Linked DNA regions of Homo sapiens: region 2 is linked to region 1. Evidence: fine-mapped expression QTL. Tissue or cell type: whole blood. Region 1 holds a variant in brackets; the other region holds the start of a gene. All regions are shown on one strand. Distances are from middle to middle.

What was found. PIP is the estimated chance that this variant, and not a neighbour inherited with it, causes the effect.
Region 2: it holds the start of LARGE1, and the variant in region 1 is fine-mapped to the expression of LARGE1 in whole blood (TOPMed, PIP above 0.99).

What each region holds. Positions count from the first base shown.
Region 1 is chr22:33,271,543-33,274,226 of GRCh38, reverse strand. LARGE1 (LARGE xylosyl- and glucuronyltransferase 1) reads left to right here. Exons shown (of 15, transcript NM_133642.5): 15 at 1-1,718. Among named protein-coding and RNA genes, the nearest start is that of LARGE1-AS2, 110 kb to the right of the region's middle. The variant C/A (reference allele first, on the strand shown) is at 1,293.
Region 2 is chr22:33,918,984-33,921,667 of GRCh38, reverse strand. LARGE1 (LARGE xylosyl- and glucuronyltransferase 1) reads left to right here and starts at 1,192. Exons shown (of 15, transcript NM_133642.5): 1 at 1,192-1,673. It overlaps LARGE1-AS1 (LARGE1 antisense RNA 1), which reads right to left and starts at 443. Exons shown (of 2, transcript XR_001755630.2): 1 at 145-443. RefSeq lists silencers at 325-824, 1,145-1,294, 1,565-1,664.

The DNA of each region.
Region 1 (2,684 bases):
TTCCCAGAGGTTAGCTATGCAGCCCACCTAGATGAGTCTCTTCAAGAATGGGAAATCAAGGGGTGACAGGGAGTAAAAGGGTTATCATCTTACTGCAAAGCCACAAGATCAGGGCAGGGCTTTAGGATGTTCTGGATGCTTTTTAATAATTATGCTTCCCATCATAACTGGGGAGAAAGGGAAGTCAGGGTTCTAGGGGTTATTCGTCCCAGGAAATAGAAGTGAAATTGTCTTTATTAAGTGAAAACTTTCCCCTTTGCCCTGCAATGTAGCTGGGCATTCAAACGGAGGGCAAACCGATGATCTAAACCAACCACTTGGAAAAACCCAATGGGGACATTGTAACCAGAGGGTCCTGGAGGTGGGGTTGATGGGTTTCCTTATCCCCAAAGTCACTCCTGTTTTGTTTTGTTTTTCTTTGGGGGTTTTGTTTATTTTTGGGGCTGGCAATCCAAAATAGAAAATCTGATCCTTTGAGGCTCTAAAGGAAAATCAGCTGCCTCTACCAACCACCCTCTATCAGCAGTGGCCCAGGAAGGAGGTCAAGCATCTTCGGCCGATATTTAAACATGGGCAGCTTCCTTCAGGATGATCACCGAGGCTCCCGTGACTTTGAACTCCCTACTCTCCAGAATCCAGGGGCTATAGCGATGGGGACTGCGGAATTACGAGGGCTGGCTGTTTTACACCGGTCACATTTTCTATTGGCAGTGACTGATTCATGGGAAAGGGCTTTGAAGGAACTACTTCAGTGCACACACAAGGTACGAACCTCTCAGGCCTTTCGAAGAACTTTCATAATTCATGAAAGCCCAGTTCTGAAGATTCACGTATCCATCTGGAGACCTACAGGAAGAAAGTGATTGGGTTCCTCTGGTTCTTGCCTGCTTCACTGTGGATGGGAAGAGGTGACAACCTCAGTCTCCCTTTGGGACCTGTCCAAGGGTAGGCAACCACCTTCACCTTCACACAGATTGAGGAGACACTGGACTTTTTACCCATTTTCTTTAATCTTCAATATTAATATTGTGTTTACATTGATGAGAACAAGAGTTAATGCCCTACCCTCTGCTGGGCTGTTTGTATTGAGTTGCAATGTGACCAGCGAAAGCTGCATTTAATAAATGAAAGTACAGACTGTTTCTTCCCCATTCCCCTCCCACTCTTGCAGGAAGCTACTGAGACACACCTTGACATAGAGAGCTAAATTGCAGTGGATAAACAGCAACTTCACACTTTCTGTTCCCCCATTCTATTTTTCTCATCATTTGAACTTTAGCCTTTTTTTTCCC[C/A]TTTTGCCTGAAGTTAGATCCCACTCTGTCTCTAACTCAAACCATCTTCAAGTTTTCCATTCCGCATCTTTCTCAACACTGGAGCCAGATGTTGTCTTCTACCAGATGTGGGCTAGGAGGGTAAATCCTGGTAATCAATTGTAAAGGGAACATCCCATCCTTGGGCCTGGTAGTCATGTGGGACCCTATAGCAATCCGGTTTGTGAGATCACTCACGATGTTACATGCTCAAGTGGATGTTACACGGAAATTTATACAAGAATTAGGAAAATTACCATTAGGACTAATTTTTGCATAGATCTAGCTAGGCTTATGTATGTATGTAAATATATATGTAGACAGAGCATACAAGTATATAGCCTATATACAAAGCATTTATAAATAAAAAGTGACATATATGTATAAAGCAGAACAAAAATTTTGAAAGTACATGTCAAAGTCCAATTTGTTCAGTGGTGTGCCAGGCCAGCTTCTACATGCTCACAAGGCCTTTTTGGGCATATTTCCAGTTTCCACGTTCAGTGATTCCTCTGTCCCCATCCCCAAGAGCTAGTTGTTAAATATTTACCAGCAGCATATCATTGACTTTCTCTCTCCCCTGTGTACACACAAGCACACACAGACAGATACACAGATACAGAGGCACTCACTAATTTCTCCTCCTTCCCTAGAGAGGACCACTGTTAGGAGATGTACACATACCGATACAGGTTTTGAATTAATCATTACCAGCTACTTGAGCCAAGTGAAAACCTGATGGTAGCACTGGTTCCTCAATGTTAAAAATCCATTTTTAATTCCCTAAAGCCTTTTTATTTTTAAAATTTTGCTTGGCCCCTGACTCATGCCCAGCCACCTTGCTTTCACTTGCATTTTTATGGGCGTAGCTGGTGACCATGTAATTTGTCATCTAAATCGGGTCACTTCTGAGAATGAAAGGTGCTAATTATTTTTACACAATAGGCATAAACTAGAAGATGATGTACCTTCACGTACAGTGAATTTATTAAGGCCAGAAACTGATACTTCACACCAACAGGAGAAAATCCTATTTCCCCAAAGACAGGTGCCTTACACTGTAAGCCAATCTCACTGAAGGCTGGAGCTCAGACATTGGCGGATGCCCAACTTCAACAGAGAGGCTGCCAACCCAATGGAGGCTGAGGTCCGCAGAGCCAGCAGCCTGCATTCCCAGAACTTACACTGGGAGCAGCAGTTCACTGCCAGCCCCAGCTTATGTGTGGGGAGCTGTAGCCATTTGGGCAGAGGTAATTGCAAAAGATGTTGATTTCTTTGCATCAATTCCCTGGGGGGTAAAACAGGCCTTTAAATGTGTCACACAGATGTTTTCATGCTTAAATAAGCCAATACTAATCTTGGCTTTCAGTTGAG
Region 2 (2,684 bases), 650 kb before region 1:
TGGGGTGGAGGAAAAAGAAATGTAGTTTCCTCAGAGGAAGAGGAAGCCTTGGACAGGATTCTTGGATACCGATCCCAGAAAGATGCCGTCAGAGCCCTTCGGCGGGGCTCCTCACAGACTCCGGCTGCCCCACAGCATGCCCACCTCCGAGAGAAGCTGCGACCCGAGGCGGGGAAACTTCCTACTTCTCACGACGGCTGTTTTGTGCAATTTGGGGAGCAGGCTGCATGGTCCTGCAAGCCTGCGAGCCTCTCTACCACGGCAGCTGCGGGCCCGTCCCGCTTCCCTTCCCCCTTTTTCCGCGAGGCACGCCAAGCCCGAGGCGGCCGGGAGCCGCCGGGGTTGGGGGAAGAAGGGCGGGGAGCTCCCAGCTTGCACCCTTTCATCCCGACCCGGCCCGGGATCCCGGCTCCGGGTGTTGCTTCCGCCTGCCTGCCAGCCAGCGAGCTGAAGAAGCACCGGGGCGGAGTCTCGCCGGGGGGCGGAGCCTGTGCGGGGGCGAACTCTCGGTCCGCGCGGCTGCGGCGCTTGCCATTGGCCGGCCGCTCGGTCACGGGGTCGGGGGCGGGCGCCGACGCGGGCGCCGGCCCCGCCCCCGCTCGGAACCCAGCCCCGGCTCGCGGTCCCCCCCGGCTGCACAGACATGACACAGACACACAGTCACTGCAGCTGCTGAGCGAGTCCGGCGCTCTGGGCACGCGGAGGCGGCGGGGCCAGCCCGGAGCCCGGACCCCAGCGCCCGCCCCTGCCGGTTCCCGCGCGGCGGCCCACTCCTGGCCGGGCGCGGGAGGCGGGGATCGCGCGCCGGCTCCGGCCAGCGGCGCCCGGCTGCCCGCGGCGGCTGCAGCGGCCGCCCAGCTCCGAGCGCCGGGCGCTCCGGGAAGCCGGCGCATCTCGGAGGCGGCGGCGGCGGCCAAGGCCGGCGAGCGCTCCCGGCGGCGGGGGCCGCCCGCCTCGGCTCCCCGCACCCACCGCGCCGCGATCCACTCGCCGCGCCTCCGCTCCCGTGACCTTCCCGGGGCGCCTCCCCTAGCCCCGCGCCCCCGGCCCCGCGCCCCAGGCCGGGGCGAGGCCTTTTCCGGCGCTTCTTTCCCGCGGAGCCGCGGGCGGGCGGCGCAGGCCCTGGGGGAGAGCGCGCCGCGGCCGGTTGCAGCCCCCCCCGCGCCGCCGCGTTCGGCGCCCGGCCCGGCCAGTCTGCTCCTGCCCCGCCGCCGCGCCGGAGCCCGGGCGCCCGAAGCTGGGGGCGCGGCCGCGCTCGTCTCGCCGGGCTGTTCGCGGGCAGGCCCTGCCCTGAAGGGACGAATCGGCTTGGAGCGCGGGAGGTGGAGTCGGCCCCGGCGGTCGCTCCCTGGACCCAACCCGAGGCTGACCCAGGCCCCTGCCCATGCGGGGCGCCCCTGGCTCGGAAGAGTCCCCCGGGCCGGGAGCAGCTCCAGGCAGCGGCCCCGGAGGAAGAGGAAGAAGGGACAGTGCTCAGCTTGGGGGACCCGGACCCTCGCCGCGGCATTTGGAGCCGGGGGCAGTCCCGAACTCTGTGCTTGGCACCGCCGCTCCGAGTAGGGCAGCGCCTGCCGGGACCCTGACCCGGACCCCCTGCGCCTCGTAGGCGGCGGCGCCGCCGCGCCACCCTGTTCTTCCGTGTCTCCCTCTGCCTGGCGGCAGTCACGGCCAAGGTAAGAGCCCCGGAGCGCGAGAGTCGCCGCGGGGGCGCCGTGGTGTGTAGCGCCGGACAAGTTCTCCGAACCTGTGGCTGGTACCCCCTGTACTCGGGATGCCGGCGGGGAGGCCGGGCACACCCTCTGCTGCCCCGGCCGGGAGCCCTGGAGAGGCTGGAGGTGGAAGCCCCCAGTCTCCGAAGTCCCCAGGACCCCCTCAGGGCCTGCTCGGCTTCTGGGCACACAGGCTGCTGGCAGGGAGCGAGCCAGGAGGAGTTTCTGGTTAACACCACGAGGGCATGTGACCGATACCCGCACCCCCGGCCCTCTTGTTAGCGGTGAGCACCTGTGGTTCGCGGAGCCTGCCGTGTTTGGAGAGGGCCCTGTTGGGCGGTACGCAACTACCTTTCGTGGTGTGATGCTGTGAATAACTTTTCTTGTTCCTTCTTGCAGACAGTCCTGCGCAATTTGGGGGCGAGCAGCCACAGCTTGCGAGTCCCTCTTTAGGACAGAGTGGTTGGTTGGCATTGCTATCTGTAGGGGGGAAGCCCAGCCAGCATGTCCTTCCTGTTAGTCAAAGCTGCTTGTGAGGAGTGATCAGTGTATAGCTATCCAGACATTCTTGTAAATGTCACTGCTTTTGAAGTTTTGGAGTGAGGACTCCAAAGTTTGTGTATCCTCAAGTTATTTTGTTCATTGCCTTATCCTCTTTTAAATGTTCCTCTTAAGGAACCTCAGTTGTACAAGCCTGTCCTTGCCTGTTTGAAATTTATTAAACCTGTGAGCTTCCCCCAGAACAATCTGATTTTAAATGGGTCACTTCGGAGGGAACAGATTGTCTCTTGCACACTGAATCCATCCCTTGGGTGACCCTGTTTAATGGGGTTGGACTCTTTTTTTTTTTTTTTTTCGTCTCTGTGCTGATGTGCCTCGGTTGAGCAGGTTTCTGCTGAATTCAGAATCCGTGAATTTTGTCACTCAGTCCATTAAAATGATCTCCTGAGGGAGCAAAATAGCAGCTTACATTTT